Linked DNA regions of Homo sapiens. The protein of the gene in region 1 purifies or fractionates together with the protein of each later gene. This does not show direct contact. Each region holds a gene or a part of one and is shown in the gene's direction. Other genes may lie near its edges. The genes, in order: RAB28, CCDC144A and MNS1.

Evidence for each region.
Region 2: the proteins of RAB28 (region 1) and CCDC144A purify together in Homo sapiens (affinity purification with mass spectrometry; one large-scale study listed by BioGRID and IntAct). This does not show direct contact.
Region 3: the proteins of RAB28 (region 1) and MNS1 purify together in Homo sapiens (affinity purification with mass spectrometry; one large-scale study listed by BioGRID and IntAct). This does not show direct contact.

What each region holds. Positions count from the first base shown.
Region 1 is NC_000004.12:13,372,781-13,376,436, reverse strand, and holds part of RAB28 (ras-related protein Rab-28), read left to right. Parts: intron 1-3,656.
Region 2 is NC_000017.11:16,770,209-16,773,864, forward strand, and holds part of CCDC144A (coiled-coil domain-containing protein 144A), read left to right. Parts: intron 1-1,768; coding exon 1,769-1,811; intron 1,812-2,391; coding exon of another isoform or gene 2,392-2,660; exon of another isoform or gene 2,661-2,967; intron 2,968-3,288; coding exon 3,289-3,425; 3' UTR 3,426-3,656. UniProt on the Homo sapiens protein: May play a role in preventing the formation of kidney stones through inhibition of calcium oxalate monohydrate (COM) crystallization, attenuating COM-induced apoptotic injury to renal epithelial cells.
Region 3 is NC_000015.10:56,434,136-56,437,791, reverse strand, and holds part of MNS1 (meiosis-specific nuclear structural protein 1), read left to right. Parts: intron 1-1,844; exon of another isoform or gene 1,845-2,011; intron 2,012-2,452; exon of another isoform or gene 2,453-3,396; coding exon 3,397-3,654; exon of another isoform or gene 3,655-3,656. UniProt on the Homo sapiens protein: Microtubule inner protein (MIP) part of the dynein-decorated doublet microtubules (DMTs) in cilia axoneme, which is required for motile cilia beating.

The sequences.
Region 1 (3,656 bases):
AAGCTTTGGGAATAGATTGTATGTATGAATCAGTGTTTATTGCAGAAGATGGAGAATGTTAACTTTTTGCCAAATTATGATACCCTTGAAACCTCATTTTGTCTCTTTTGTTGGGAAAAAGATACTAGTATAAGAAAATTTTTATTAGTGGTTAACTAATGAGTTAAGGTGCTGACCACATTGTTTGGCACTTCTTTATTTAAATCCTTTTGGAGCCTCTATTCAATTTTAAAACATCCTTGACTGTAGTGATATTAGTTTTTGATGTTATTTTATTGTCAGTTTAGTAGTGTTATTAATTAGTAAGGATTTCTATGTTTTTTCACTATTCCTAGATAGTTTTCTTAGGCTAAGAAAAAAACATGCATAGCGGCAGCCAAGAAATTTAAAGTACCACTATAATTTCCCACTAATTCATATGTTTGATAGAATGAAAAATCAGAGTAAGAGCCTATAAAGTTATGCTTCAGAAGTGGTTTGGTTAGAAGTAACAAACTAATTACATTTTTGCTCAATTTCTTCCACCCCATTCGCACCCTGTGCAACTAAAAAAGTATAATTATCTTTTCCCATCCTTAAATTTTTCTTGAATTCTTTTAGAGTTAGTTCTGTATCTTTTTCTCATGGTCTCTCTCTCTCTCTGTGTGTGTGTGTGTGTGTGTGTGTGTTTTAAAACAATTGAAGCAAATATTTGAAATTGTTACACTGATATGGCTGTTTCTAAGACTTGATTAAAACATTTGAAACTCTAAAAGTTTGCTAGTTTTAATTCCCATCATTCAAAGACATTTGTTTTAGCACTTGGTATGGCCAAATACAGTGCTAAGATACTTTGTGATGTTTAAATAGCTCCCAGACACAGAAAAAGTGGTTACTTGTTTTGGGCCTAGGAGAATATAGGAAAGAGAAGTCACCATGATTTGCTTGATCACACAGACCTTGGATCCCAGAGGTCAAGTAATTTGTTTGCTTTTTAGCTTCTCTGTCTAAATAATGTTTGTCTCTGCTTAGTTAGAGAGTCTATGATTATCATAAGTGATTTATTGGTCATACATTGTAAACTCAGTATAGTGGTGGGTCTAAAAAAGAATTAAAAGACTTTAAAATGTCCCTGCTTTTAGTAAAGAAAATTAATAGGTTATGTGCCAGGGGGACTGTGTTATCTCAGTTATCCTCATAATAACTCCCTGGATCAGGTGAAATTTTATCATTTTATGATCAGGAAGCTGAGACTGTGGAGAGACTCAGTAACTTGATCACTAACCATTAATTGGGCAGTGGTGGAGCCAGAATTTGCACCCAGGTCTCTCTGACACCAATGCCCTTGGTATTTCCACTCTGCCATACTGGGGGAAAGTGTACTGGGCAGTTTGGAGTGGGAAGGGAGAAAATGGCTGAAAGAGGAGCTGGTATGAATAATATACCTGGGTAGAAAAGGTTAGGTTGTATTTTGGAAACAGAAGAGCAGTTTGGTTAAAATAAATGACCATTTGTGTTAGAGTATAAAGAGTTTGAGAACAGATTTTGGGGATTTATGAATGCCAAGTTGATTAATTTTATTAGACCTATAATCATTTTGAGGTAGGGCAATAAATGAAAGCAGTTTTTAGGTAGAATTAATCTAATGGGATATTTTTATATGTCGTTGGATGGGAGGGAGATTGAGGTAAGGAGACTGAGTTACTGCTACCATGTGAAAAAGACCAAAGTCAAGATGGAATGGAAAGGTTGGATGGATGTAAGGGAGATTTTAAAGAAGAACCAATAGGGCTTGTGGAATTATTGGATAAGAGAGGATAGAAGTCTGAGATAACCCTGAGGTTTCTTGCCTGGAGGAATGAAGACAGGAGAAACCCAATGATTGGTTGTCTTTCTGAAAAGGGGAATGGTGGGCTGGTGCTTCACAGGTGAGAGGGCTGCACTGAGGAAGGATTCCTTGTACTGCCTGAGCTGTGCAGTGGTGATCAGATACAAGGAGACCTCTGGAGAAATGAAACAACTGGAGGCAAAATTTGGGGGAAGCTTTATTAACATTAGGTCCCTCATGTTGCAAGATCAACAGGGTTACTATTTTGACTTTAGATATGGGCTTAATATCCTAGTGTGTTTTAAATAAAGAGATATTAGATGTGTTAACTACATAGTTCCCTACCCTCCCTGCACATCTACTTTGTTTATTATGCTTTGAGGTTTAATTCTATCTTCAGTTTGTTGGTGGCATTTACTCTTAATGCATTCATTTGAAGGTGAATTCAAGTTACTGCAGCACTCTTCTATATGTTTGTCAAAATTCTTTGTGTATAGCAAGAATCCTTATTAGTCTTTCTTGATCCTGATGAATTTGGTGTTTTTGCCAATTAAATTATTGATTTTACAATTCATATTTCTCAGTGGAAACATTTTGGCAAGTTCATCTAAAAGACTAAGAAGTGCAGATTATATATATATACACACACACATATATACACACACACACATACATACATACATACATATATATACACACACATACACACTGCATGTGGTTGTTGCGACATTTGAAAGATTACTGGGGGGATTCAAGGGAATGTTTGAAAGTACTTTGTATTATTCTATAGAGAAGGAGTTAAATGGCAGACTCACCAGTCCCATTGATGTTGATGCTCTACTATAATAATTTAGTTTGTGACATAAATATTTACAGTGAGGTTTTAGTCCTAGTTTCATTCACTGACAATTTAAAGAGATTCTGCTAGTTTATTTCTAACCTAGATTGCTCCTATTTGGGAGTTATATAAAATGAGTTATCAACACACTTTGCAAGCTTTGCAAGGAAGAGGAAGAGAGAGAAAAGAAAGTGAATGCAGTTTATTAACACAGTAACCATATTTTGAGGGTCTGTGTAATGCCAGGGGGCCACACTAGAATCTGGGGATACAGAAATGAATAAGAGAAAGTCCCTATCCTCAAGGAGCTCCCAGAATAAGTGGGGCAGCCAAACATTTAAACAATGAACACTATAGATCCATTTTTCACAATTCCCAATTTGGTTAATAGTTTCATTTGCATCATTTATGTAGTCTTCCCCTTCTCCACTACCAACCATTATCCTCTAAGGTAGTGTAAGAATTGATACTGTTGTTAACAAGTGTTCTAGTTTCCCAGATTGTTCAGATTTTTTATTTGCAAAGTACATAGACCTTTAGGAGAAAAAATAAATTTACAATTGCCGTTGTTTAGGAAATCCAGCAATCGGCTCTTTAAGAATGCATTAGATAATTGATAAAGAAAAAGCATAGTCCTTTCAGTCCTGTCTTGTGTCCTTCAGTCTGAATTGCAAGGAAGTTTTGCCATATCTACTTGGTGTTAAGAATTCTTAATACATTTTTAAGCCTCAGCATTTTTACTTGCCAATTAATAAACTGTGAATTTCTACTTGGTTTGAACTAGGTATGTATTAGTTTTTAAAATACCAAAAATTTCTATCATGTCTGAGATATTCATTAAACTTGCTAAAAATATATATTCCTTATTGTCCCCTCAAATTATTTTCAGACTGTATCTGAAAGTATCTCATGTAAGGCTTGGCATGTAATAGACATGCTCAAGATTTTAGTTACCTTAATTTGCATATTATTGTACAGTACAAGTACCCATTTAACCTTTGGTATTAAGAA
Region 2 (3,656 bases), on another chromosome or scaffold:
GCACGATCTCAGCTCACTGCAAGCTCCGCCTCCTGGGTTCACACCATTCTCCTGCCTCAGCCTCCTGAGTAGCTGGGACTACAGGCGCCCACCACCATGCCCGGCTAATTTTGTGTATTTTTAGTAGAGACGGGGTTTCATTGTGTTAGCCAGGATGGTCTTGATCTTCTGACCTTGTGATCCTCCCGCCTCGGCCTCCCAAAGTGCTGGGATTACAGGTGTGAGCCACCGTGCCCAGCCTGAGTTATTTTTAAAAATCTGTATTTCTTTTCTGAATATGAAGGAAGGTGCTGGCATAGAATAACTCCAGGCTCAGTGAAAGATCTGAAGCCCACTCCTACCTTGTAACTAATTGGTTTTGTGACCTCAGGCAAGCTGCAGTCTCTCCGAGCCTGTTTTGTTTCTTATGTAAAATTAAGGACTTTGACTAAATCAGTGACATTCATACGTTTAAGTAAATCTCTTTTTTTTTTAAGAATGGAACTTTTTTAAATTGCATAAAACCACATTATAGAAAACAGAAGTAGTGCTGCCTGACTAAAGGAAGGATCAGTGCTCTGAAGCTGTGACTTTCTTATCCCTTAATCCTTCAGCATCCTCTGTGGAACCTTAGATTTCTGTGGGACATAGCTTGAAAAGGATCATTTCTTGAATTATTACTTTTATAAGGCCTGGATGGTAATGCTGTTGTCATGTTACCTACTCTATAAAGCCTATCTATAATGTTTTTGTCACAGAAATGTTATGGAAAGGAGTCTCAAAATATTGGTAAACCTGTTAGTAAAAAAAAAAATTGACTTGACACCTAAAATTTCTAAAGGCATTAGATATCATTATCTTTATCACCACAAACTATCTCAGACCCCGTTCTAGGCATTTAGTGAGAGAATACCTATTCTAAAAAAAAATTAAATAAGAGCACTCTAGATAGGGACACTGGCAATAAGTTTGAAATATTCTGACACCTTTCATAATTAAGTAGATAACTATAACTTGTCAGATGCTTAAAAAATGGGTACTAATTTCTGAAAAGAAATCAAAGTTGCAGTTAAATAACTCTAAATTGTTTTCCTAGTTTTTAATTCTAGACACTCATGAATCAAAGAAACTAAGATTGAAAACTGGCTCTAACCTGTATTTATCCTTGTTTTTATGTAAATTTTCTGAAATCTTTGTGTCCGTATGAATGAAGAAATGTTAATCATAATAGCATAATATTTTTAATCTTTTGCCAGTGGAACTTTCACATGGCATCACAACAATACTGCTTTCTTCAAGTATGTATTAAAGATTCTGTGCTGAATTAATAGCAAAGAACATACTTTGAAATTATTATTTTCTAAAAGTGGAGAATGGGGAGTTCATTGTAAGGAACTATTCATTAAAGTGAAAAACTGGTTAGACCTTGATAAAGGGCAGAGTTTTGATAAGAATGGGAAAGTAATGCATTCATTGCAGAATATGACTTGAATTGTGTAACCTCTGTACTAATAAGGGAAAACATCACACTTTTGAAATGACATAGCTCCAACAGACCAATATTAATTGTACTTTTGTGAGATTAATCTAAACAGCATAACACATATATGTTCTCCATTATCTAAACTTAAAATAGGTAGGAATTTATATGATATTTTTAATTTAAGCAATCTTCAAGTTAGGTCTAGTCTGTAAAAGTATTATTTAAAGGCCGCATTTTGTAATTAATGCTCCTTACCATGATAATGTATCTTCTTAAACGTTATAAATAATATTTGACTTATTTCAGATGCAGCAGAAGTTGCAAAATGATCTAACTGCAGAAGTAGCAGGTATGTTACCAAAATTTATGAATTAAATTTAGATTAAGTAATATATATCTGAAATAAACTGCAAACGACATCCCTTTCCGTTCTTGGGCTAGTAGATACTACATTAAATATTCTTTCATATACATCTAATGAAAGATGTGAAAACTTGAACATGTATAATGAAGAGCATACTTATGCCTCATGAATTCATCACGTTCCATAGCTTGAAAAAAATAGCTCAAGAAGTCTGGCTCTACTCTTCACTTCTGCCATCCCTATGGAATTGTCAGCCAGCACACAGAAACGGTTCTCAGAAAACAGAAGCATCATCAACTTCTCAGGGTTATGGTAGTGATTTTTAAGGCCAAAACATCCCAGTCTCATCTAGTAACCTATTCAAGCAGTTACAGTTTATAAGCAGTCGCTTGAGAGGTAACACTTTAAATCTCCAGTCATTTACAGTGTCATTGGTTTACTTTTGCCCTCAGAAAAAGTTCCAAATTCCTTAACATGTAATATAAACACCCACATTCATTTGGTTCTTGTCAAGTTACTCAGGCTTATCTCTCACCACTTACTTTACTCTGCCCCTTTGCTCTAGGATCCAGCCAAACTGGACTGCACAGAATTCCACAGTGCTCGTCCTTCTCCTCCAGCTCTTTGCACTTGCTTCTTTGCTCTATCTGCCAACCTTTTTTTCTCATCCTTCAGGTATCCACTAACCATGCCTCCACCGAAAAGCCTACAGTATCGAGACAAAACTGGGATAGGTGTCCCTCTTGCATTCCAATAGTGCCCTGTTTTATACCTGTCAGGGTATCTATGACTTGGTATGGAAATTGCCTATTTGTCTGCTTTTTCAGGTTATAGCATATGATTGCTGAGGGGTGGACTGTATCATCTTCATCTTGTAACTCCAGGGCATAGTCTAGTACCTTAGCATGTGGTTGTTGAATAAATGAATGAAGAATGAGAAAACCAGAAGCTGTGATACACAACCACAATGATCATTAATTTAGTGTGCAACTGTGGGCAGATTCTTATCTAATAATAAGTTAGCATTGTAGTCATACATACTTTTCATTCTTGTTAACACTGAAAAAGCTCTCAACTCTTTTTTACTGATTTGCACTTAGTTAACTATGAAATATATAGAATATAATTCTTTGGCCAGGCATGTTGGCTCACGTTTGTAGTCCCAGCACTTTGGGAGCCTGAGGCAGGCAGATCACTGGAGCCCAGGAGTTTGAGAGCAGCCTGTGCCAACATGACGAAACCCTGCCCCTATAAAAAATACAAAAGCTTGCCAGGCACAGTGGCTCATGCCTGCAGTTCCAAGTACTTGGGGCTGAGGCAGGAGAATTGCTTAAGCCTGGGAGGACAAGACTGCAGTGACCTGTGATCACACCATGGCACTCCAGCATAGGTGAAAGAGTGAGACCCTATCTTAAAATAATAACAATAATAATAATAATATAATTCTTGCTTTTTTTTTCAGCTGCTACTAAATATGAACCTGGATCCTATATAGCTTCTCCTCTAGGATTTACACACAAGGAAAATCTGAATCAAGATCCAGTTTTGGAAGTAACAAAAGAATATGCACAGATTTTAAGAAGAAAATACATACTCTGAAAGATAAGGCAATTTTATTTGGGCTATTCACATGATATTTTGTTTCCCATTAAATATATGATGTGAACATTTTTACTAAAGGGAAATATTCTATATTATACATGTCTGATGAAAATTTATATAGTATTTTAAATAATGTTTCTTGGCCTCTTCAGCTAACTTTTAAGTGGATTTTGCAAATGAAAACCAGTATTACTGAGTTTTACATACTCGAACTGCCCAAATGTTTGC
Region 3 (3,656 bases), on another chromosome or scaffold:
GTACATTGATTTTGTATCCTGAGACTTTGCTGAAGTTGCTTATCAGCTTAAGGAGATTTGGGGCTGAGACAATGGGGTTTTCTAAATATACAATCATGTCATCTGCAAACAAGGACAATTTGACTTCCTCTTTTCCTAATTGAATACCCTTTCTTTCTTTCTCCTGCCTGACTGCCCTGGCCAGAACTTCCAACACTATGTTGAATAGGAGTGGTGAGAGAGGGCATCCCTGTCTTGTGCCAGTTTTCAAAGGGAATGCTTCCAGTTTTTGCCCATTCAGTATGATATTGGCTGTGGGTTTGTCATAAATAGCTCTTATTATTTTGAGATATGTCCCATCAACACCTAATTTATTGAGAGTTTTTAGCAAGAAGGGCTGTTGAATTTTGTCAAGGGCCTTTTTTGCATCTATTGAGATAATCATGTGTTTTTTGTCATTGGTTCTGTTTATATGCTGGATTACATTTATTGATTTGTGTATGTTGAAATAGCCTTGCCTTCCAGGGATGAAGCCCACTTGATCATGGTGGATAAGCTTTTTGATGTGCTGCTGGATTTGGTTTGCCAGTATTTTATTGCGGAGTTTTGCATCAATGTTCATCAGGGATATTGGTCTTAAATTCTCTTTTTTTTGTGGTGTCTCTGTCAGGATGACAGACGACCAAAGTATCAGGATGCTGCTGGCCTCATAAAATGAGTTAGGGAGGATTCCCTCTTTTTCTATTGATTGGAATAGTTTCAGAAGGAATGATACCAGCTCCTCCTTGTACCTCTGGTAGAATTCGGCTGTGAATCCATCTGGTCCTGGACTTTTTTTGGTTGGTAGGCTATTAATTATTGCCTCAATTTCAGAGCCTGTTATTGGTCTATTCAGGGATTCAACTTCTTCCCAGCTTAGTCTTGGGAGGGTGTATGTGTCCAGGAATTTATCCATTTCTTCTAGATTTTCTAGTTTATTTGCGTAGAGGTGTTTATAGTATTCTCTGATGGTAGTATTTCCGTTGGATCTGTGGTGATATCCCCTTTATCATTTTTTATTGCGTCTATTTGATTCTTCTCTCTTTTCTTTGTTATGAGTCTTGCTAGCGGTCTATCAATTTTGTTGATCTTCTCAGAAAACCAGCTCCTGGATTCACTGATTTTTTGAAGGGTTTTTTGTGTCTCTATCTCCTTCAGTTCTGCTCTGATCTTAGTTATTTCTTGCCTTCTGCTAGCTTTTGAATGTGTTTGCTCTTGGTTCTCTAGTTCTTTTAATTGTGATGTTAGGGTGTCAATTTTAGATCTTTCCTGATTTTTCTTGTGGGCATTTAGTGCTATAAATTTCCCTCTACACACTGCTTTAAATGTGTCCCAGAGATTCTGGTATGTTGTGTCTTTGTTCTCATTGGTTTCAAAGAACATCTTTATTTCTGCCTTCATTTCGTTATGCATCCAGTAGTCATTCAGGAGCAGGTTGTTCACTTTCCATGTAGCTGAGCGGTTTTGAGTGAGTTTCTTAATCCTGAGTTCTAGTTTGATTGCACTGTGGTCTGAGAGACAGTTTGTTATAATTTCTGTTCTTTTACATTTGCTGAGGAGTGCTTTACTTCCAACTATGTGGTCAACTTTGGAATAAGTGCGGTGTGGTGCTGAGAAGAATGTATATTCTGTTGATTTGGGCTGGAGAGTTCTGTAGATGTCTATTAGGTCTGCTTGGTGCAGAACTGAGTTCAATTCCTGGATATCCTTGGTTAAACACTTTTTTCTACTGATATGATTATGACTTTTTCTTCTTTAGCCAAGTATATTACATTGATTTTTGAGTATTGAACCAGTCTTGCATCCCTGTAATAAACACTACTTGGTCATGGTGAATAATTCTTTTAATGTATGATCTATTTTTCTAATATTGGGTTAAGGATTTGTGCATCCATATTCACGAGGAATATTGGTCTGTAATTTTTTATATTGGTAGCGGGGTAATACTATCTTCATAAAATGAATGGGGATATGTTTCCTCCTCTTCTGTTTTCTGGAAGAGATTGTGTAGAATTCGTGTTAATTTTTTAAATATTTGATAGAATTTTCTAGTGAAACCATCCTGACTTGGGGTTTTATTTTGGAGGAATTTTAAGTTATTAATTCCGTCTCCTTAATAGTGATAGGACTATTCAGATTACCTTATTTCATATTTGGTGAGTTTTGGTAGCTTGTGTTTCTCAAGGAAGTGATCCATTTCATCTAAGTTGCCAAATTTATGTGTGTATAATAATTTGTAGTATTCCTGTATTATCCTTTTGATGTCTGTAGGGTCTCTAGTGATATCCTATGTTTTATTCCTGATATTAGTTATTTGTTTATTCATTCATTTTTTTTTTCTAGGTCAGCCTTGTTAAAGGTCTGTCCATTTCACTGATAATTTTTAAGAACCAGCCTTTTGTTTCACCAATAATTGTCTATTTTCTATTTTTAATTCCATTGATTTCTACAGTTTTATTATGTTTTTCCTTCTGCATATTTTGGGTTTACTTTACAGTTCTTTTTATAGGTTCTTGAAGTGGGGGCTTAGATTATCGATTTGAGACTTTTCCTACATACATGCATTTAGTGCTATATATATACATTTTCCTAAATGTATCCATTTAGTGCTATAAATGTTTCTCAGAACTGCTTTAGCAGCATCTCACAAATTTTGCTGTCTCACTTTTATTAACTACAATGTATTTATTTTCCTTGGCATTCCCTCTTTGGCCCATGAATTATTTAGAAGTGAGTGACCATTGTAAAATTATATTTTTTAGTATGTATGAAATTTTTCATAATAAAATGTTCAGAAAATAAAAGCTTATAGGAAAGGACTTAACTGTTCCAACTATATTTGAATTTCCCTAAAGAAGTACTGATTGTCATTGCTAGATAATTGTTTTTAAATTTTAGAGAATTTTGGAGAATGAAGGGAATATTAGAAGACTAGAGATGGGTAAGTGCAGCTTTGATTTTGAGGAGGAGGTTGGAAACTGAAAAATACTTATGGGTGGTTTGGACAGCTTTTGTAAGCAAGATTCTAGAATGATTCATAGTTACCATAGACTTTAGATGAATAAACTCAGGTGTGCAAAAAAGGCTTTTGTAACAGCTCTTTCCAAAGCAGTTACGTGTTAATTCTGAGTAGAGAAACAAGATGGTAAATATAAATTAAAATTTGTTCATGAGTAACAGAAAACAATCCAAATGTAAGCATATTCTTTATCCAGCTAGTTTTAAAGGGATGGACAAAGTTATCATGAAAAGCCTTACTTTTTCAGTTTGTATGATTTCATATTGTAATACTAAATTTAACCAAACTCTATCACTCTTTCCTTATAAATCTGGTGTAAGGAAATAGTTACTAAATTAACTTTCAGCTGTATTGTTTAGGAAGAAGCAGAAAAGAAATTGAGAAAGCAAAAAGAGATGAAGCAAGATTTTGAAGAACAAATGGCCTTGAAGGAATTAGTGCTACAGGCTGCAAAAGAGGAAGAGGAGAACTTTAGAAAAACTATGCTAGCTAAATTTGCTGAGGATGATCGAATAGAATTAATGAATGCTCAGAAACAAAGAATGAAGCAGCTGGAACACAGGAGGGCTGTGGAAAAACTTATTGAAGAGCGTCGCCAACAATTCCTTGCAGACAAAGT